Linked DNA regions of Homo sapiens. The protein of the gene in region 2 interacts with the protein of the main gene of each other region in a biochemical or structural test. Each region holds a gene or a part of one and is shown on either strand. Other genes may lie near its edges. The genes, in order: NPBWR1 and NPW.

Evidence for each region.
Region 1: the proteins of NPW (region 2) and NPBWR1 form a complex in vitro, tested with the Homo sapiens proteins (one study listed by BioGRID).

Annotation. Positions count from the first base shown.
Region 1 is NC_000008.11:52,933,515-52,945,458, forward strand, and holds NPBWR1 (neuropeptides B/W receptor type 1), read left to right. Parts: upstream 1-5,667; 5' UTR 5,668-5,852; intron 5,853-6,196; 5' UTR 6,197-6,393; coding exon 6,394-7,380; 3' UTR 7,381-10,220; downstream 10,221-11,944. UniProt on the Homo sapiens protein: Interacts specifically with a number of opioid ligands. Receptor for neuropeptides B and W, which may be involved in neuroendocrine system regulation, food intake and the organization of other signals. Has a higher affinity for neuropeptide B.
Region 2 is NC_000016.10:2,012,369-2,023,702, reverse strand, and holds NPW (neuropeptide W preproprotein), read right to left. Parts: upstream 3,919-11,334; 5' UTR 3,802-3,918; coding exon 3,391-3,801; intron 3,171-3,390; coding exon 3,084-3,170; 3' UTR 2,948-3,083; downstream 1-2,947. UniProt on the Homo sapiens protein: Plays a regulatory role in the organization of neuroendocrine signals accessing the anterior pituitary gland. Stimulates water drinking and food intake. May play a role in the hypothalamic response to stress.

The DNA.
Region 1 (11,944 bases), on a different chromosome or scaffold from region 2:
AAATAATAATTTAAAGTATCTATTAGTAAGTTAAGGATACATATTATAATCTCTAGTGTATGTCTAAAAGAATGATTAAAGCATGTAGAAATAATAAGTTAATGGAGTGGGATAAAGTAAATAATAAAAAAATTAATTAATCCAAAATAATGTAAGAAAGGAAAACACAATGGAAATGAGATAGGAAAAATAGAGGACAAAGAATATAGCAGGTATATATCCTTGTTTTAGTCTGTTCAAGCTGTTAAATGAAATACTATACACTGGGTGGCTTCCAAACAACAGAAATTTATTTCTCACAGTTGTGGAGGTTGGGAAGTCCAAGAACAAGGTTCTGGCAAATTTGAAGTCTGATGACCATCTTTTTTGCTGTAACTCACAAAGCAGTAGAGATGAGGGATCTGTTTGGGGCCTCTTTTATATCGGCAAGAATCCCATTCATTAGGGCTCTGCCCTCATGACCTAATAATCACCTCCCAAGGCTTCACCTCCAAATACCATCACATTGAAGATTAGGTTTCAGTATGTGAATTTTGGGGAGACACAAACATTCAAACTTTTGGCTCCCCCCAGATTCATGTCCTTCTCATATCTGACATACATTCATTCCATCTCAATAGTCCCCAAAATCTTAATTTGTTCCAGCATCAACTCAAAAGTTTAAAGTTCAAAGTCTCATTTAAAAATCAGATATGAGGGAGACTCACAGTACAATTCATTCTGAGGCAAACTGCTGTTCAGATGGGAACCTGTGAGATTGAACATGTTGTGTGCTTCCAAAATACAAGAGTGGGACCAGGCATAGGATAGACATTCCCATTCCAAAGGGAGAAATAGGAAAGAAGAAATTCATAACAAATGCTTCCCAAGTCCAAAATCCAACAGAGCAAACATTAAATCTTTTTTTGGGGGGTGGGGAGTGGGTACAGAGTTTCTCTCTTGTTGCCCAAGCTGGAGTGCAATGGTGTGATCTCCGCTCACTGCAACCTCTGCCTCCCAGGTTCAAGTGATTCTCCTGCCTCAGCCTCCCCAGTAGCTAGGATCACAGGTGTGTGCCACCACACCCAGCTAATTTTTGTATTTTTTTTAGTAGAGACAAGGTTTCACCTGTTGGCCAGGCTGGTCTCCAACTCCTGACCTCAGTGATCCACCCACCTCAGCCTCCCAAAGTACTGGGATTGCAGGCATGAGCCACGGCGCTCGGCCAACATTAAATCTTAAGTCTTAAAAATAATCCTCTTTGGTTCCATGTCTCACTTCCAGACATACTGATGTGGTGAACCTGTCTCCACAGCTTTGGGTGGCCCTGCTCCCAGGGCAGCTTGATACCTGGCTTGCATCCTGGCTTCCTGGGGCTAGAGTCACACACTGGCTGCTTTACTGCTCTGGGTCAAGGGAGCTGACCTACCCCAGCTCTGCTGAGCGTTGGGCTTCACAGGGACTCTCTGTGGTGCCTCACACCCTCGGAGGCTTTTGCACTCTGCGCCTTTATAAGGGCACTAATTCCCTTCATGAAGGCTCTGTTCTCAGAACCTAGTCACCTCCCAAAGGCCCATATCCAAATACTATCAATTGAAGATTAGCTTTCAATATGTAATTTTTTGGGGAGACAAAAACATTCAGACCATAACAACCCTAATACTATCTATAACTACATTTAATATACTATGAACTCAATACTTCAAAGACATTGTCAGATTGGATTAAAACAAATGTTCTAATGCTTACATGGGACCCACATTAAATACAAAGACATAGAAAGATTTAAAGTAAAAAGATTTTTTAAAAAAAGCTGTTCCATGATAATATTAATGGAAAAACAGTTAATGTAGCTGTAATGATATCAAACAAAAGTGGCCACATACAGCAAGTAGGAAATGGCTGGGCGCGGTGGCTCATGCCGGTAATCCCAGCACTTTGGGAGGCCGAGGAGGGCGGATCACGAGGTCAGGAGATCGAGACCATCCTGGCTAACATGGTGAAACCCCATCTCTAATAAAAAATAGAAAAAATTAGCCAGGCGTGGTGGCAGGCGCCTGTAGTCCCAGCTACTCAGGAGGCTGAGGTAGGAGAATGGCGTGAACCCGGGAGGTGGGGCTTGCAGTGAGCCAAGATCGTTCCATTGCACTCCAGCTTGGGCGACAGAGCGAGACTCTGTCTCAAAAAAAAAAAAAACAAAAAAAGAGAAAAAAGAAATAGAAACCTAGTTAAAGATGTTATAATGATAAAAGGTAATATATACAGATAATATTATAATTATATGTGATATATTCTATATTATAATGTTAAATGTATGATCATTTGATAAAATCAAATAACATGATGATAAAATCATTATAATTAGGCTATCAAGATGAAAGGGTAAATTCCACAGGAAAATATAGCGATCTTAAACTCGTGTACCCTTAATAAAACAGCATCAAATTATGTAGTGAAAATTGGCCAGTCATGGTGGCTTGTGCCTGTAATCCCAGCACTTTGGGAGGCCAAGGCAGGCGGATCGCTTGAGGTCAGAAGTTCGAGACCAGTCTGGCCAACATGGTGAAACTCCATCTCCACAAAAAATACAAAAAAAAAGAAAATTAGCTGGGCGTGGTGGTGTGCCCCTGTAGTCCCAGCTACTCGGGAGGCTGAGGCAGGAGAATCACTTGAACCTGGGAGGCACAGGCTCCCACCACCACACTTCAGCCTGGGCAACAGAGTGAGTGAGACTCTATCTCAAAAAAAAAAAAAAGTAAAATTACGTAGTACAAGTTGACAGCATATAATGAAAGCGTAAGTAGAGAAATTCACACTCATTAATTGAAATTCCCCCCCCCCGTCCTTTCAGTAACTAATGAGACAGTTAGATAAAAATATCAGCAGAAGCCAGGCACGGTGGCTCACACATGTAATCCCAGCACTTTAGGAGGCTGAGGTTGGTGGTTCGCTTGAGCTCAGGAACTCAAGACCAGCCTGGGCAACATGGTGAGATCCTGCCTCTACGAAAAATACAAAAAATTAGCCTGGTGTGGTGATGCGCACCTGTAATCCCAGCTACTAGGGGTGCTGAGAGGGGATGATTACTTGTGCCCAGGAGGTTGAGGCTGCAGTGAGCTGCAATTGCACCACTGTACTTCAGCCTGGGTGACAAAGCAAGACCCAGTCTCAAAAAAAAAGAAAAAAAATCAATAGAGAAATTTGAACAACATAGTAAGTTTGACTAGTTGACATATGTAGAGTTTTGCACCCAACAAGTGCAAAACAATTTTTCAAGTACACATGAAATAATTAGAAAATAACTATATACTGGGGAGTAAGTTTCAAAAAATATCTATGAATTGAAGTCATATTGAGTATGTTCTCAGTTTACAGTGTAATTCAACTGGAAGTCAACAATAAAAAGGCTAGAAAATCTCCAAACGGTTGAAGATGATCAACTATATACATACATGTGTATATATACACATAAACATATATGGACACACGTGTATACATACGTGTATATACACGTATATACACATGTGCATATGTGTATACAAACATTCACACGTGTATACACACGTGTATAAACTATATACATGTGCATATATACACACATACACACATGTGTGTATATATGTGTGTATATACACACGTGTGTATGTGTATATACACGTGTGCATATGTGTGTGTATATACACACAAGTGTGCATATATGTGTGTATATACACTGTGTATGTGTGTGTATATACACGTGCATATGTGTCTGTATATACACGTGTGTATATGTGCGTGTATATATGCGTGTGTATATATGTGTGTGTATATACACGTGTGTGTATATATGTGTATGTATACACGTATGTGTATATAGTTGATCATCTTCAACCGTTTGGAGATTTTCTATTATATATATTTTTTCTTTAACATTATATGGTGTTTTATCATATAGTGTTTCTTACGGACATAGCTTAAGAATCATCTGTTATTTTGTTTCACAGAAAGTGTGAAACTGCAGGGGAGCCGATTTGTATAGATCCTGGTAAAAAGATAATTGAGTAGGTAAATTCCAGGGAGCTTTTGGACAGTGGATCCCCCTGTCAGTGGTTTTGGAGTCCCTAGTTTCAGTTACTCGTGGTCAACTGTGGTCTAAAAATATTAAACAGAAAATTCCAGGAATAAACAGTTCCTAGGTTTTCAATTGTGTTGACTTCTGATTGGCGTGATGAGATCCAGCCATCTTACTCCTTCCCACAGAAAGTGAGTCCTCCCTTTGCCCAGCGTTTCCCTGCTGTCTACAATATCCACCTGTTAGTCACTTCACAATCTGGGTTATTAGATGACTGTGGCAATGACCAGTGTGGTGTCTTCAAGTTGCCTTGATTTTACTGACTTTTTGCCCTTATTTCTCTCTGGCTCCAAAGTGCAAGAGAAGTGATGCTGGCAATTCAGATATGCCAAAGAGAAGCTGCAAATGCCTCCTTTAAGTTAAAAGGTAAAAATTCTGGACTTAATAAGGAAAGAAAAAAAATCATATGCAGAGGTTGCCAAGATCTACTAAAAACAAATCTATCCACGAAAATGTGAAGAAGAAAAAAGAAATGCATGCTAGTTTTGCTGTTGCATCATTTTTGGATGGAAGAACAGAAACATGTTCCCATTGACCGCAATGGGTACTATCCATGGTTTCAGGCATCCACTGGGGCTCTTGGAACCTATCCCCCATAGGTATGGGGGGGCTACTGTATTTCTGGCCCCACAGTCTTCTACTGCCGACTTTAGGTCTCTCTGGATCTCAGGCCCCCTTCTCTAAGATGCATCCTAGAGGACCAAAAATACACTTTATTTGGGCTTCGCCTGCTTTTGTGGAAGGGTAGTTTACTAGAGGATATAATCTCGTGTTTTAATTTGCTCTCTCTCCTAAAGGAAATGTGGAGAAAAAAAAAAAGCAGAAATTGGAAATAACCAATATTTAGTTTATTTCATTCGATTCTTAGGGGAACTGGTGAGGAGCCTAAGATGATTTTCCCTTCCTAGAGAAAGAATCCAAAGTCCAGGGAAATAGCGACAGGGGAGTTCAAGACTGCCCCTGCTAGTCCTTCCTTGGCTACTCTCCGCTGCGATCGCAGGATAGCTCTCATTAGCAGGAGAATCGGGCAAGTGTGTGGATAAGTAGAGAGTGTGTTGAACAACTTGTAACGTTTTATGAAATACGCATTGTCATGGTTCCCTAAAAGGCTTTGCGGAAGCCGTTTGTCTTTACTAATCAAGTCTTTACTTACACAAAAGTAGAAGTAGAAGTAGTTTTAGAAAACATACTAACAATCTTCTATCCCCTTGAAGACCAGAGTAGCAGAAAACAGGTGATTTGCATTATAAAATTGCACTCACTTTTTCCTCCTTTCAGATTTCACATTACATTAGCCTATTTGTGTTACGGTGTATAAAAAATGGAACAGGCGCCTCCACTACATTGTTCTCCTTTAAAAATAGATCACTTACACCCTAACTTTGTTTTCCTTAAATTCGATTCTTAACAGGAGAGCTTTCTATTATTTCAGATGGAGTGAGGTTGCACGACTGGGATGGAAGAAAGGAATCCCTTAAATTTGGGGGAATTTCTGTTCTCTGTTCTAAGACCATTTTACTTGGGGTGTGGGGGTGGGCGCGGCGGTCAGGGCAGTGGAACGCAGTCGCGGCTGCGCCATCCCTGCACTTCCAGGCGCGCGGGAGGGACCGGCGGGGACGCGAGCTGCGGACTCTGGCGAACTCGGGGGAGGCAGACAGGGGGAGGCGGACACCCAGCCGGCAGGCGTCTCAGCCTCCCCGCAGCCGGCGGGCTTTTCTCCTGACAGCTCCAGGAAAGGCAGACCCCTTCCCCAGCCAGCCAGGTAAGGTAAAGACTGCTGTTGAGCTTGCTGTTACTGAGGGCGCACAGACCCTGGGGAGACCGAAGCTTGCCACTGCGGGATTCTGTGGGGTAACCTGGGTCTACGGAAGTTTCCTGAAAGAGGGGAGAAGGGTTTGCATTTTTCCTATGGAGGATTCTTCTCTCTCTAGCATTTCGTTTGATGTATTCAACTGGTAGAAGTGAGATTTCAACAGGTAGCAGAGAGCGCTCACGTGGAGGAGGTTTGGGGCGCCGCGGCGCCACCCCCACCCCTCCTCGGGACCGCGCCTATTTCTAAAGTTACACGTCGACGAACTAACCTATGCTTTAAATTCCTCTTTCCAGCCCCGTGAGTCCGCGGCGACATTGGGCCGTGGGGTGGCTGGGAACGGTCCCCTCCTCCGGAAAAACCAGAGAACGGCTTGGAGAGCTGAAACGAGCGTCCGCGAGCAGGTCCGTGCAGAACCGGGCTTCAGGACCGCTGAGCTCCGTAGGGCGTCCTTGGGGGACGCCAGGTCGCCGGCTCCTCTGCCCTCGTTGAGATGGACAACGCCTCGTTCTCGGAGCCCTGGCCCGCCAACGCATCGGGCCCGGACCCGGCGCTGAGCTGCTCCAACGCGTCGACTCTGGCGCCGCTGCCGGCGCCGCTGGCGGTGGCTGTACCAGTTGTCTACGCGGTGATCTGCGCCGTGGGTCTGGCGGGCAACTCCGCCGTGCTGTACGTGTTGCTGCGGGCGCCCCGCATGAAGACCGTCACCAACCTGTTCATCCTCAACCTGGCCATCGCCGACGAGCTCTTCACGCTGGTGCTGCCCATCAACATCGCCGACTTCCTGCTGCGGCAGTGGCCCTTCGGGGAGCTCATGTGCAAGCTCATCGTGGCTATCGACCAGTACAACACCTTCTCCAGCCTCTACTTCCTCACCGTCATGAGCGCCGACCGCTACCTGGTGGTGTTGGCCACTGCGGAGTCGCGCCGGGTGGCCGGCCGCACCTACAGCGCCGCGCGCGCGGTGAGCCTGGCCGTGTGGGGGATCGTCACACTCGTCGTGCTGCCCTTCGCAGTCTTCGCCCGGCTAGACGACGAGCAGGGCCGGCGCCAGTGCGTGCTAGTCTTTCCGCAGCCCGAGGCCTTCTGGTGGCGCGCGAGCCGCCTCTACACGCTCGTGCTGGGCTTCGCCATCCCCGTGTCCACCATCTGTGTCCTCTATACCACCCTGCTGTGCCGGCTGCATGCCATGCGGCTGGACAGCCACGCCAAGGCCCTGGAGCGCGCCAAGAAGCGGGTGACCTTCCTGGTGGTGGCAATCCTGGCGGTGTGCCTCCTCTGCTGGACGCCCTACCACCTGAGCACCGTGGTGGCGCTCACCACCGACCTCCCGCAGACGCCGCTGGTCATCGCTATCTCCTACTTCATCACCAGCCTGAGCTACGCCAACAGCTGCCTCAACCCCTTCCTCTACGCCTTCCTGGACGCCAGCTTCCGCAGGAACCTCCGCCAGCTGATAACTTGCCGCGCGGCAGCCTGACTCCCCCAGCGTCCGGCTCCGCAACTGCCCGCCACTCCTGGCCAGCGAGGGAGGAGCCGGCGCCAGAGTGCGGGACCAGACAGGCCGCCTAGGCCTCCTGGGGAAACCGACTCGCGCCCCATACCCGACCTAGCAGATCGGAAGCGCTGCGACTGTGCCCGCAGGTTGACCTTGCCAAGCCCTCCAGGTGATGCGCGGCCATGCCGGGTGAGGAGAACTGAGGCTGAGATCGCCACACTGAGGGCTCCCTAAAGCCGAGGTGGAGGAAGAGGAGGGTAGAGGAGGAGGGCGGTATTGCTGGGAACCGCCCCCTCCCTGCCCTGCTCCCTGCTGCCCCACCCGAGCCCTGGCAGTCTGGAACCTGGCTGGAGTCGGAACTCTCCGCGCCTTCGAAGGGAGGCCCGAGGACGCTGCCGGCGCCCCCAGGCGTCGGCTCCGCGCGGCCCCTGCTGTAGCTGGCGCACAGCCCCGGCGGGTCCCCTTGTCCTCCGCGCGCTCTGGGAAGACGGTCAGGCGCGCGCGTTTGGCGCCCACCCCTGTGAGACCCGCTTGGCCTGGCGCCGCGGGCGGGGACCGCTGCCGAGGCCGCCAGCGCCTCTTCAACTGGGGAAAACACAACAACTCGGGATGCCCCATCGGAGTGTGTATACACCTGTGTGTGTGTGTGTGTGGTGTGCGCGCGTTTGCGGAGGCATGAAATGCGGGGAAAGAGGCTGGCGCTTGGCAGTGACTGCCTAGAATATGATACGAATAGTGATCCTTCTTTCTGTCTGCCCCTACTCCTTTTCTTTGCCTTTTCCCTTTCCTATCCGTGATCTCCCCTGAAAATGTCAGACTCCCGGAGCAAGGAACCCGGAGTAGCCCGGGCGCGCGGTTCCGGCGCCCCCTGGAGGAGCCAGCGGCCGAGTGCTTAGCGTCGGAGGATCGCGGGGCTTTGTGGTGGAGCACTCCGGCTGAGCGCGCTTCACAGCGCTGTGGCACACTGGTCATCGTTGCTTATAGAGGATGCCAAGCCCCACCCCCATTCCCCCAATTGGCCTCGTCTCTTGTCTTACTTAGATCAGTTTGTTGTAACTGTTCATGTGTGTACTGTTTTTCAGGACTGAAAACTTTATAAATAATGTACATGTCCTAATCTCACGAGTTGCCATGAAGATCAAATAAGATAAAAAGAAATGCGATCTATTCTCTTGTGTTCCCTTTCTCCTCTGCTTCCTTGGCTCCGCCTTAGGGAGAGCAGGAAGCAGGGATGACCGACGGCTTCAGGTTTTCTCTGCTGTACTTTTCACAGGGAGCTGTGGATTACCTGGGCTTTATTCCTTACTTGTAGACGGCATCCGGTAGGTAGTCCCGGTAAACCGGGTAAATACTGGTCCTGGAGTCACCAGGGAGATTGGCCAGCATCCTACCTGTGTTTTTGTCTCTGCATATGGAAGACAAAGTGGATTAAGAGAGAGGACTGGCATTGGGTTTGCCCAATCCTCTGCAGTTTAGCCTTAGACATGAGGGCCGAACCCTAAGCAAAGTCTGGTAATTGATTATGGTGTTTTAAAAGGTATTAATCTTTAGGATGAAGTCCAAACAGGATGAAAATTTCTACAAATGTTTGTTTCCTATGTCATGTGTGAGAAAAAAAAATGTGAGTGTTGCAGCACATTTTGTTTGCTTAGTTTGGCATCTTCAATCAATTTCTCAATTATTTAGGTTGAAAATAGCTTTTAATAAATATTTGGAAGGAAAAAACTCCCCCTTGGAATGGGGGGAAGCAAACCCCCTCTCTAATTTTGGTGAATAAGAATTGCTTTCTTAGCTCTCAGAGTTTTTAGGAACATTGAAATAATTCATAGCCATCAGTTTAGAAAATATACATTAAAAAACCTTCTGTCTTGGGTGGCAAATAATAGTAAATTGTTTAAAAGAAAGTTTTCATCTACAATGAGTTTCGAGTGGTGGACCTCATGGCATTTGAACAGGCCTCTCTCTGCTGGCCGGCTTCGGAGGCTTCTTGGAATTCATTTTAATATCTTTCGAATTTCTAGGAAACATTCTATTGATTTTCCTTAAACTCTCAAAATTATCTCATGAATCCTCTGTAACTTTTCAAAATTAAAGTTTTAAACTTAGAGTAACTTCTAGATTACCTAAGGTGATGGACAAAGAGTAAGGTGAACATTTGGCTACAAACACAGCTGGAGTGATTGTCTGGATTCAGTATCTCATCTGTCTTAATAAGCTCAGTAACTGGACTCAGATGGGGGACAGCTGAGTGATCCATCTGTCCACTGTTTCATCCCTACAGTAGATTGACCTCGAGCCTTCTTGGAATCTATGGAGATGACTGCTGGAAAAATACACGGGCTGACATTGCTGTTCATCCCCAGCAAGGCATGGACTGGCTTCTGAGTATGCCTGTGGGATTAATCAGGTCTCAGCAGTTGAGTTCCTCCTGGGCTTTCTGATCACTGGATAAACTGTTGTATCATTATTTCTAGGTCGTTGCCCTTCATACGAGCATGTAGACTGTATATCTCAGGCTTCCTTTTTATGTCTTGGGTAATCGGTTGAATAAATACACACATAAGCCAGGCAAAAGTAGAATTTATTCACATCATTGTATTGCAAAGGTTTTAACACTGTGTTGAATTCTTGCAGTTTCTGTGTAAACTCTATGGTTTGGTTTTACCACTTTGAATAGTTAAAAATGTCTATTTGCTTTTACTTAATTTAGTGCAGTTATGTAATGTGTATGCTTATGTTTTCTCTTGACAAACGCAGAAACTCTGTAGTCCATTGTAGAGGAGCTCAGTTTAAAATAAAAGCTGAAACATTCTGTGTGATAAGTGAACATTCTATTTTCTGAGAACAAGTTATCCACAATTAAGTCACCTTAGCATTTGTGCAGTGTTACTATTTAAAAATACTGCCTTCATTGGAAAAGTGATCCAATGAATACTCAATGAATAAATAGAAGTATTTGACAGGACAAAATTAAGAATGAACACCCCCACCCCTTAATTTGGTTGATTGTGAAAATGATGCAAAGCTGCTGATAAACACAGAGATTCCAGAACTTATGCTGGGCAGAGAAAGGATGCTAAACTTCTATCATACCATCAAAAGCCTCATTTCTTAAATATTTGAGCAGCTATGTGGAGGGGGAGAAGGGAAGAGAAATTGCTTCAATTATTAGTATACACATTGCTATCAGCAATATGCATAGACATAGCACAAATATGCAAGGTGGAGAATCTCACCTGAAAAACTCACGAACTTATTATAAACCCTTCTTTCCTCAGCAACATGCTGGGAAAACAACAGCAAGACAAAAAAACAGTAAACTCTCCTTGGATATTAATCATCTATGCTTATGCACATTAAGAAAGAGATCAGAGAATTCTGCCCATAATGGTCTTTTATTAGCACAGCTTTGGGTCTGGCACTTCGGCCCCCATTTTACATACAAAGAAAGTGAGATACAAGGAAGTGGATCAATTTAGCCAGGCCCACAAAGATCAGTGAAGACCAATCAGAGCCACCCAGTTCCCATTCTATTCTAGGAATTGTGTCATCTTGTTTCAGCAGAGATGGAATTCGTTGCAATGTGTAATTTGGAAATATTAGACTAGAAAACAATGATGTCTTTTAAATATTTAGTAGATTAAGCAAGCTGTATCTACCATTAGCTCATACGAGATAAAGGGAGGGTAAGATTTAATATTATAAAACTTCAATCTTAATTCAGAGACTTACAAAGTGTATGGGATTGTTGAAAGTTATATGAGAATAAAAATTCCTAACAGAGCTGTCACACAAAGGCACCATGTGCATAGCAGCCTCCACGCTTTATGTACGTGGAACTGTGCCCCAGAGGGACTATTCATATAGGAGACAATGCTAATGATGGCTGTACTCTGTAGAATGGAGCTTTGCAATGGATGATGCTGTCCTTGAATTTAGGGCAAGGGAAATGTATTTGTTTATACCATATCTCATAAGGTTACATTGGTGACATCATGTTAAATAAAAATAAAAGATGGAAAAAGGGAAGGAAATTTAAAATGATATTGCTCAGAAACTGTCAGAATGCATGAACTGCATGCTTCCCACAGTCCAGAAGATTTCTCTTGGGCCTGGGGGGCAATAGTGCACACAGACCTGATGCTCTGTTGGGCCAAGACCCAGGGAGCGGCTCACCATCTTCCTGTAAAATCTGGATCTTCTCATATTGTTCGACCAGAAGGTTAACTCACCCCCATTCTGAGGTAACCCAAGGGCCAGAGTCACAACTGCAATAACCAGGCCACCGTTTACCACGGAAAGAGTGGGTGTTTGCATAGTCAAAAATGTGGGAGAAATTGCCAGAGTTCCCAAAGGTGAGGGGCAAATCATTTGTGAATGCTAAATAGTAACAACAAAACGGACATCTTAAATGATTCATCCATTTGCCAAAGAAGCTTCTTCCTTTAGGCAGTGATGAATGATCTGGTAGAGGAAGAAAGACCAGCCCTATACAGTAACTGTGGTGTGAATGCAGCAATCAAACCTGAAAAGATGTAAATATTTA
Region 2 (11,334 bases):
TGGCCTGGGGCCCTGTCTGGGGGTGGGGCCACTATTCCGACTCCCGGTAATGGTCCAGAGCTGCTCAGGCAGGCGGGGCTTCCTAATGGACATTAATGGCCCTTCAAGCATAACCAGACCGCGCCTAGGGCCTCTTCCCTCAGGCTGCACCATGCCTCTCTTTACATTCTGAAACTGGAGCAGGCGGAGCCAGCGCGACAGAAGGAGGTGACCAACAGAGACCCACAGACCAGACAGAGAGAGAAGGCCGGGGGACTGCGACGACCCAAGAGTGGGGAGAGGCAGGAAACCGCTGCCGCCGACGGGGCGACCCCGCCCACCCGTCGTGGCCCCGCCCACTGCGGCTCTAGCCCCGCCCGTTGCTGGAGGCGCGAGTCGGACGCTACCGCCCGGAACAGTAGCCGCGCAGCGCCACCTGGCCGGAACTGGTGGCATTGCATCGTGCGAGGAGTTGCCCCAGGATCCTGCCCATCTGGCTTCCTTCCACTCGATCCAGTCCTGTGGGGTGGGGACTGGGGTGAGGCTGGCGCCCTAGGCCTGGTTGCGCTGCAGGGGAATAAGGGTGTGGAGTGGGGGAGGCAGAGAAGCCTCTCATGGGCTCTGTCTCCCCATCTTGGACCAGGCAAGCACCAGGGAACATCACTGAACGCCCCCCCGCCAGCCCCGCGAGAACAGAGCTTTGAGCACCTTGGCCTGCGCAAGGGGAGGCCAGAGCTGAAGCAGCCCCAGGAAGAACATTTAACCCAGCCTGGGGCCCTGGAGTCCTCCTTCGGCGGGGGAGGTCCCGGGCTGTCCTGGAATCTGCAGTCTGGAGCAGGCGGTGGGGAAGGGGGAGGAGGCAGTGGGAGGGGCGGTGAGAGCAGACAGAGCCAGCCCTGCCAGAGCACGGGTATCGTCCCATAGGCAGTGGGGAGCCCTTGAGGCGTGGTGTGGTGGTGACGAGGTCAGGACATCCATGTTCTTAGAGGTCAGGTTCAGTGAGGAACAGGGGCAGGAGTGGGAAGGAATGAGCTCGCAGGAGAATGAGTTGCCCTGTGAGGTGTGTGACCACCTCTTCACCCAGCACAGAGCCGGAGGGAGGGCTAGATGGAACCAAGGGCTCCATAAGAATTGGCTGTTGGCCGGGCGCGGTGGCTCACGCCTGTAATCCCAGTACTTTGGGAGGCCAAGGCGGGCGGATCACGAGGTCAGGAGATCGAGACCATCTTGGCCAACATGGTGAAACCCCGTCTCTACTAAAAATACAAAAATTAGCTGGGCGTGGTGGTGGGCGCCTGTAGTCCCAGCTACTCGGGAGGCTGAGGCAGGAGAATGGTGTGAACCCGGGAGGCGGAGCTTGCAGTGAGCGGAGATCATGCCACTGCACTCCAGCCTGGGCAACAGTGCAAGACTCTGTCTCAAAAAAAAAAAAAACAAAAATTAGCTGGGCGTGGTAGTGGGCACCTGTAATCCCAGCTACTGGGGAGGCTGAGGTGGGAGAATCATCTGAGCCGGGGAGGCAGAGAGGCGGAGGTTGCAGTGAGCCGAGATAGTGCCTCTTCAGCATGGGCTGGAGACTCCGTCTCAAAAAAAAAAAAAAAAAAAAGAAAAGAAAAAGAATTGAAGGGGTGGAGATAAAAAGCACCCACATTTGGGAGACAGACACACCTTGGAGATGGAAAGGACCTACCAGTGAGGGGAGGGGGGCTTCTAGAAGTGGGGGTGGGGAGCTGGTTCCACAGAGGCATCCTGGAGCCAGGCCCAGGACCACCTCTCCCCCAATGCTTGCTGGGTGGCCCCAAGGGGGGACCCTGCCACATGGCCACAGGAGGGCTCCAAGGGTGGGCTGCATCAGGGCATGTGACCTTGGTGGTTTGGGGTCCAGGACAGTCATTGGAGTCCCAGGGAAGATTAGAGAGGGTTGAAGAGGCAGCGGGAGGGAGGAGGGGCCCAGACCCTTGGGAAGGGAACTGGAGGGGGCCTGGTGGATGGAGGTCCTCGGTGTTCAAGATGGCAGGGCACATTTATGTGGGGGGGCTGGAGCCAGTGACCAGAAGTGCATGCAGAGGGGGATAAAAGGCAGAGAAGCAGGCCGGGTGCGGTGGCTCACACCTGTAATCCCAGCACTTTGGGAGGCTGAGGCGGGCGGATCACGAGGTCAGGTGATCGAGACCATCGTGGCTAACATGGTGAAACCCCGTCTCAACTAAAAATACAAAAAATTAGCTGGGCGAGGTGACGGGCGCCTGTAGTCCCAGCTACTCGGGAGGCTGAGGCAGGAGAATGGCGTGAAACCGGGAGGCGGAGCTTTCAGTGAGCCGAGATTGCGCCACTGCACTCCAGCCTGGGCGACATAGCCAGACTCCGTCTCAAAAAAAAAAAAAAAGGCAGAGGAGCAGCCAGGGGCAGTGGCTCATGCCTGTAATCCCAGCACTTTGGGAGGGAGGCTGAGGTGGGCGGATCACCTGAGGTCAGGAGTTCAAGACCAGCACGTCCAACATGGTGAAACCCTGTCTCTACAAAAATACAAAAATTAGCTGGGCATCATGGTGGGTGCCTGTAATCCCAGCTACTCAGGAGGCTGAGGCGGGAGAATCGCTTGAACCTGGGAAGTGGAGGTTGCAGTAACCCGAGATCGCGCCATTGCACTCCAGCCTGGACAACAAAGAGAGACTGCATCTCAAAAAAAAAAAAAAAAAAAAGCAAGAAGCAAGGTGGGGCTCAGGTGGAGGGGCCCCTCCTCCCGGGGCATGACCCAGAAGAAGGGGACCAGGGGTTCTTAATCAATCTGCGGAAGCCTTTGGCTAAGGGAGGGAGGGGGTGCCGGGAGATCCAGGTTTGAAATGAATGCTGAGTGCCCGGCGCTTCCCCTGGTCGGCGAGGGAGGGGCCCCTGACATTTGCCAGGGCGTGGGCGCGCCTGTCTGCGCCCTGAGCTAGACGGCAAAGTACACAAGCAGACGAAGGGGTCGCATGCGGGGGCGCAGGAGTCAGGCGGATTTTATTGACCGGACGGCAGGCGGGGTCTATGAGCGGCTCCTGGAAGCGCGCGGCCACTCCTCCTGGGTCAGGCGCGGAGGCGCCACGGGCGGGCGGGGGACGCTGTCAGAACGGTCCGGGGGCCAGGCAGGGCAGGCCAAGGCGGTTTGCTGCGGGGTCCACCGCTGGGCGGGAGACGTCTCTCCGAAGTCTCTAACGAGAACACAGCAAGGCCGTGGGGAGGAGGCTGTGGCCCTCCAACCACCGCCCCCGGGTGCCAGGGTCGAGCCTGCCCAGGGAAAGCTCTTCTGGGCGCGGAGCAGGGAATGGAAGGGCCCGAGGGTGCCCCCTGAACGCGCGGCTCCGTGCTCCGGCTCAGACCTCCCGAGACCCCCTTGCCCGCGGCGGTCCAGGCCTCTCCCCTCTCACGTACCTGGCCAGCTCCGCTGAAGTCCAGGGACTCCGGTTCCAGCGCAGGCTCTGGGGCGCGCGGGCTCCGGGGCGCACGGACGGGGATCCCTGCCTGGGAGCTCCTGCGTCGCGTCTCCCACAGCTCCTGAACCCACGAGGGCAGCAGGAGAGGAGCCTCGCGGGCTGCGGGTTCGGGGGAGAGGGTGTCCCTGGCCAGGGGCCCGGCGGCCGCGCGCAGCGCGCGGCGCCACAGATAGGGTGAGCGACGCAGCCCCATGAGCAGGCCAGCGGCGCGGCCCACCGTGTGGTAGCGGGGACTCGCCACGTGCTTGTACCACGCGCCGGAGGGCAGCGGCAGCAGGAGCAGAAGCAGCAGCAGTGCCAGCCGCGGCCGGCTCGCGGGAGCCCCCCGCTCCCCTGGGCGCCACGCCAGGGCGCTCGCGTCGACGGCCGCCCGGCGGGGCGGGCCACGAACCGGCTCGGCTGGGTTTGGGCGCGCAGTGGAGTTGGGACGCCCAGGTACCGGAGCGCAGGAGGCTGGAGGCGAGCCGTGGGTCCCCTGCAGGCCCAGCTATAACCGCTCGGTGGCCCCGCCTCGTTCCGCCCCCTCAGTACCGCTGGGCTCCCCAGATGGGGGGAGGGACGGAGGGAGGAGAGGGAACCCTGGCAGCTGGCGGGGGACGTGGGTACTTGAGCACCTCACTGAGTGGGCCGCTGGCTGGAACTGGGCTCGAGGCTCCTCTGAGGGGACACGTCCCATTCTCTGCCTGCTCAGCCTCCTCCCTCTAGGAGTGGAAGTGCCAGGGAGTGGGTACTGGGAACACTGATGAGGGAGTAGGGCTGAGGGATGCCCCTTTAGCCAGACTCCTGCCGGTGGGACGACAGCAGAGCGAAGGCCCAGGTGCAGGCAGAGCTACAGTGGCTATTGCAGGAGGGCTGTCGGGGGCCTTCAGCACCATTCAAGACCCCTCTGGGTGAGTCCCCCCAAGAGTTGTCCCTTGTCCTTGCCTAGCATAGCTCCCAAAGCTGTCCCCACACCCTGTCCTGTCCACTGCCACCCCCAGCTTCTCCCCACCAACCCATCTCCCCGCAGAAGCCTTAGAAGCCTCATGTTGGCAACACCAAGCCATCCGTGGGGTCTGCAGTTCTGTGAGGCTTCCAGGAGAAAAAGTCAGCCCCTCCTGGAACCTCTACCCCTGGAGGGGCAGGACAAGGCCTTGCAGACCTCCAGCGCCTCCTCTCTGGTGATGGTCCCCCAAGACCACTTTATCCAGCCAGTCTCAATTTTTGCCTAAACCAACAGCCTGTGGCTTTGCCTGCCTCTGTGCGTCTGTGCCTAACACCTACTCATCCTTCAAGACTCCACTTAAATGGCCCAGATCCTTGGCCGGGCGCGGTGGCTCACACCTGTAATCCCAGCACTTTGGGAGGCCGAGGCGGGCGGATCACCTAAGGTCATGAATTCAAGACCAGCCTGGCCAACGTGGTGAAACCCCATCTCTACGAAAAACACAAAAAATTAGCTGGGTATGGTGGCAGGCACCTGTAATCCCAGCTACTTGAGAAGCTAAGGCAGGAGAATCGCTTGAACCCGGGAGGCGGAGGTTGCAGCGAGCCAAGATTGCATCATTGCACTCCAGCCTGGGCAACAAGAGCGAAACTGCATCTTTTTTTTTTTTTTTGAGACGGATTCTGGCTCTGTTGCCCAGGCTGGAGTGCAGTGGCGCGATCTCGGCTCACTGCAAGCTCCGCCTCCTAGGTTCACGCCATTTTCCTGCCTCAGCCTCCCGAGTAGCTGAGACTACAGGTGCCCGCCACTACGCCCGGCTAATTTTTTGTATTTTTAGTAGAGACGGGGTTTCACCACGTTAGCCAGGATGGTCTTGATCTCCTGACCTTGTGACTTGTGATCCGCCCGCCTCGGCCTCCCAAAGTGCTGGGATTATAGGCGTGAGCCACTGTGCCCGGCCGAAACTGCATCTTAAAAAAAAAAAAAGGCGCAGGGCCAGACAGTCCCTCAGAATTTCCCTCTGTGGCCATCTGGGCTTAACAACCCCCTCCCAGAGGGCAGAGCCTGACACAGTCTTTCCTGACCTCCCAGCAAGGGTGAATCCAGCCCTCCCTCAGCAACCATGTCAGTCATGGGGCAGCCCCTGGGTCCCAGACACCAGGGATCTCGTTTTGGGTCATCATGAACTATCTCATCTTGACCTCCAGACAATGTCATGAGTGGAACTATTATTGACTCCACTCACCAACGAGTAAACTGAGGCCCAGGGAGAACTGACCTGCCCCAGATCATGTTGGGTAAATGGTGGAGGTGAGATACATCCTAGCACCTGAGCCCAAGAGCCTCAGCTTGGGGGAACAGGGTACTCCTGTCCAGAAGGGCACAGAAAGGCTGGGGGCAGGCTGGGCACAGTGGCTCATGCCTGTAATCCCAGCACTTCAGGAGGCTGAGGCAGGTGGATTACTTGAGGCCAGGAGTTCAAGACCAGCCTGGCCAACATGGCAAAACCCCATCTCTATTAAAAATACAAAACTTGCCAGGCACAGTGGCTCATGCCTGTAATCTCAGCACTTTGGGAGGTCGAGGCAGGCATGTCACGAGGTCAAGAATTTCAGACCAACCTGACCAACATAGTGAAATCCCATCTCTACTAAAAATACAAAAATTAGCCGGGTGTGGTGGCATGCGCCTGTAGTCCCAGCTACTCAGGAGGCTGAGGCGGGAGAATTGCTTGGTCCTCGGAGGCGGAGGTTGCAGTGAGCCAAGACTGTGCCATTGCACTCCAGCCTGGGTGACAGAGTGAGACTCCATCTCAAAAAAAAAAAAAAAAAAACTTAGCCGGGCATGGTGGCACACACCTGTAGTCCCAGCTGCTCGGGAGGCTGAGGGAGGAGAATCACTTGAACTCGGGAGGCAGAGGTTGCAGTGAGCCACGATGGGACCACTGTACTCCAGCCTGGGTGACAGAGCAAGACTCCATCTCAAAAAACAAACAAACAAACAAACAAAACAGAAGGTCTGGGGGCAGAGCCAGACTCCCACTCCTGAGGCGTGAGGGTCCCCGGTGAGTCTGGTGAGCCTGACGAGGGTTAGAAGCAGCAGCCCTCTCCAGGAAGGCCACACTGAAGTGGCGAGACGCCAGCCCTGCTTGATAGTCGCAGCTGAGGGGAAGAGGATAAGGACCTCGGCCTCTCCTGCCTCAGTTTCCTCATCTGTAAACTGGGGGTAAAAAAAGTGGCCACTTCATCATCTTGTTGGCACTGATAATCCAGTGGTGGGTCTGGGAGCTGAACCGTGCCTGGTACCCAGTAAGCACTCAATGAACGCTGTGGCTAGGACCTATCCTTGCTGCACCAGAGGCTGACCACCCCCAGCCTGTCAGGAAAACACTGTGACAGGGGCAGAATGGGGGATGCAGATGGAGCTGTCTGCGCCGCCTGGAGGACCACGGGGACCAGAGGCCCTGCAAGAAGCTATCCCCGCCACGCTCCCCCAGGGCCCCTTGTCCTTGACAGCTGCCTGGAGTGTGTGGTGGGCGGGTAGTGCAGCACGACATGGGCCAGAGCCAGGCCCCATCAGGGTCCCTTGGCGCTGCCACCCGCTCCTGGCTAAGAGGACGTGGGTGTCTCTGGACCCCTGGGGGGACTCCAGCCAGTCAGGGGAGGGTCCAGGACGCCCCCTGGAGGTGGCCCGGGGAGCTTCTGCAGGGGGAACTGTGGAAACTGATCAATGAAAGTCTATGCTGGGATGGAAGTCCCTGTGACAGCAAATAGAAGCAGTGGAGATTGCGCCACTGCACTCCAGCCTGGGCAACAGAGGAAGACTCCTTCTCTCTCAAGAAAAAAAAAAACAAAACAAACAAACAAAAAAAAAACAGCTGGACATGGTGGCTCATGCTTGTAATCCTAGCACTTTGGGAGGCCAAGGCAGGTAGATCATGAGGTCAGGAGTTTGAGACCAGCCTGGCCAACACAGTGAAACCTCGTCTCTACTAAAAATACAAAAATTAGCCAGGCGTGGTGATGGGTGCCTGTAGTCCCAGCTACTCGGGAGGCTGAGGCAGGAGAATCACTTGAACCCGCGAGGCAGAGGTTGCAGTGAACCAAAATCACACCACTGCACTCCAGCCTGGGCGACAGAGCAAGACTCTATCTCAAAAAAAACAAAACAAAACAGAACCACAACAACAAAAAAACCAGCAGTGGCTCCTCTACCTTGTTTATTGCTGTGGCCCAAGGGAGTGAGAGTCGCAGGACGCAGGGAAAGGTCACTGGGAACAGAGGCACGGGGAGGCGTCTGTTGGGTGGAGTGTCCGGAACACGTGGCAGGGGGAGACCAGGACTGGGTTAGAGGAGCAAAACACAGAACCTTAAGGGTGTCTGTGGGCTCCCTTTTCAGGCGGCAGGAGGAAGGCCTCTGTGTCCTGCCCAGCCTGGTGCCCAGGAACAGGACCTGGTGACAAAGGCTTCCTTCTCCCCACCTCCAGGGGTCTGGAGTCACAACTCTCCTTGGGGAGGAGGTGACGAGAGCCAGCCCTGCTTCTTGAGGCTCACATCTCAGTTCCTTGACACCAGTGTCCGGCCTAGAAACCCGTGAGACACTTGCTTAAGGCCAGGACCACGCCTGCCGCAGGCACAAAGCCTGGCCCCGAACAGGAACGCCCTGGTAAGGAGGAGATTAATGAGCAAATCTGTTTTGTCATCTTTAAAATTATTGGCCAGGGCGTGGCACAGTGGCTCACGCCTGCAATCCCAACACTTTGGGAGGCTGAGGCGGAGTTAGAGACCAGCCTGGGCCATATGGCGAAACCCCATCTCTACCAAAACAAACAATGACGAAATATATATATATATTAGCTGGGTGTGGTGGTGTGTGCCTGAAGTCCGAGGTAGAAAGTTCCCTTGAGGCCTGGAGTTCGCAAGGCTGCAGTGAGTCGCGATCTTGCCACTGCACTCCAGCCTGGGCGACAGACCCTGTCTCAAAAAGTAAATACATAGCTCGGGCTCAGTGGCTCATGCCTATAATCCCAACAGTTTGGGAGGCCGAGGTGGGCGGATCACTTAAGCTCAGGAGTTCAAGACCAGCCTGGCCAACACGGTGAAACTCCATCTTTACTAAAAATACAAAAAAATTAGCTGGGTGTTGTGGTGCACGCCTGTAATCCCAGCTACTCGGGAGGCTGAGGTATAAGAATTGCTTGAACCTAGAAGGCGGAGGTTTCAGTGAGCCGAGATTATGCCACTGCATTCCAGCATGGGCGTCAGAGCGAGACTCCATCTCACAAAAAATGAAAAAAAAAACCAAAACAGTAAATATATTAAATAATTGGCTAGGCTCAGTGGCTCACACCTGTAATCCCAGCACTTTGGGAGGCCGAGGTGGGCAGATCACAAGGTCAGGCGATCGAGACCATCCTGGCTAACACGGTGAAACCCCGTGTCTACTAAAAATACAAAAAATTGCCCGGGTGTGGTGGCTCACGCTTGTAATCCCAGCACTTTGGGAGGCCGAGGCGGGCGGATCATGAGGTCAGGAGTTTGAGACCAGCCTGGCCAACACAGTGAAACTTTGTCTCTACTAAAAATACAAAAATTAGCTGGGCGTGGTGGCAGGCACCTGTAATCCCAGCTACCTGGGAGGCTGAGGCAGGAGAATCACTTGAACCCGGGAGGCGGAGGTTGCAGTGAGCCAAGATCATGTCACTGCACTTCAGCCAGGGCGACAGAGCAAGAGACCACCTCAAAAAAAAAAAAATTAGAAAAAAAAGAAAGAAAGAAAAGAAAAAGAAAAAAAAGGAAAAAAAAAAATAATAATAATAATTAGGGCTGCGCCTGGTGGCTCACGCCTATAATCCCAGCACTTTGGGAGGCTGAGACAGGTGGATCACAAGGTTAAGAATTCGAGACCAGCCTGGCCAACATGGTGAAACCCCATCTCTACTAAGAATACAAAAATTAGCCAGCCATGGTGTTGCATGCCTGTAATCCCAACTATTCGGGAGGCTGAGGCAGAATTGCTTGAACCCGGGAGGCAGAGGTTGCAGTGGGCCGAGATGGTGCCACTACACTCCAGCCTGGGCAACAGAGCAAGACTCCGTCTCAAAAAAATAAAAAATAAATAAATAAATAAATAAAATAAAATAATTAATGTTGTCAAGGCAGTATACATTATAAATCAAAGGCTGCTTGCTATAAGGAAGAGAACAAAGCTATCCCTGCCCACCCTTCACACCCTGCTCCTACTCTCCAGAGACAGCTACTTCCAACTCTTTTAGCTGTTAGCTGTTTCTTCTAGTATTTATCTCCAAATGTTTGAATCATAAGCATAACTACTATTTTGTTTTGTTTTGTTTGTTTTGTTTTTGAGACAGAGTCTCACTCTGTCACCCAGGCTAGAGTGCAATGGTGCGATCTCTGCTCACTGCAACCTCCGCCTCCTGTGCTCAAGAGATTCTCCTGACTCAGCCTCCCAAGTAGCTGGGATTATAGGTGCCTGCCAAAACGCTCAGCTAATTTCTGTATTTTTAGTAGAGACAGGGTTTCGCCATGTTGGCCAGGCCGGTCCCGAACTCCTGACCTCAGGGGATCCGCCCGCCTCGGCCTCCCATAGTGCTGGGATTACAGGCATGCGCCCCTGCGCCCGGCCAGAAACAGAAAAACTCGTAGCTGCAGCACTACTGACCTTTGCCATCCTGTGCACTGAGAATCTTTAGTAGCATCCCTGGCCTTCACCCATGTGTGTACGCAGAACAGTAGCCCCCCAAAGATGTTCGCCCCCAATCCCTGCAACCTGTGAATATTTATGCCACATAGTAGGAGGGAATTAGGCTGTAGATAAAATGGTTGATTAGAGGCAGGGTCTCACTATGTTGCCCAGGCTGATGTCTAGTGGCTATTCACAGGCGTGATCCCACTACTGATCACAGGAGTTTTGACCTGCTCTCTTTCCAAACTGGCCCAGTTCACCCCTCCTGAGGCAACCTGGTGGTCCCCTGCTCCCAGGAGGTCACCAAGTCGATGCCAAACTTAGTGCAGACACCTGACTGACACAGCCCACTATATCCTCAGAACTCCTGGACTGACACAATCCTCCTGCCTCGGCCTCCCGAGTAGCTGAGACTACACGTGCGCACCACCACACCAGGGAATATAAAATTAAGGTTGCTAATTAGCTGGCTTTATTTTATTTTATTTGAAACAGAGTCTTGCTCTGTCACCCAGGCTGGAGTACAGTGGCATGATCTCCGCTCACTACAACCTCTGCCTCCCGGGTTCAAAGCGATTCTCCTGCCTTAGGTTCCCAAGTAGCTGGAATTATAGGCGCCCACCACCATGCCCGGCTAATTTTTGTATTTTTAGTAGAGATGGGGTTTCACCATGTTGGCCAGGCTGGCCTCGAACTCTTGACCTCCAGTGATCTGCCTGCCTCAGCCTCCCAAAGTGCTGAGATTACAGGCCTGAGCCACCACATCAGGCCAGCTGGCTTTAATAGGAGATTAGCGGCTGGGCGTGGTGGCTCACGCCTGTAATCCCAGCACTTTGGGAGGCCAATGCAGGCGGATCACCTGAGGTCAGAAGTTCAAGACCAGCCTGACCAACATGGAGAAACCCCGTCTCCACTAAAAATACAAAATTAGCCGGGCGTGGTGGCGCATGCCTGTAATCCCAGCTACTGAGGAGGCTGAGGCAGGAGAATTGCTCGAACCGGGAGGCGGAGTTTGCAGTGAGCCGAGATTGTGCCATTGCACTCCAGCCTGGACAACAAGAGCGAAACTCCACCTAAAAAAAAAAAAGCTGGGCGGGGTGGCTCACGCCTGTAATCCCAGCACTTTGGGAGGCCGAGGCGGGTGGATCATGAGGGCAGGAGATGGAGACCATCCTGGCTAACACGGTGAAACCCTGTCTCTACTAAAAATACAAAAAGAAATTAGCCGGGTGTTGTGGCGGGTGCCTGTAG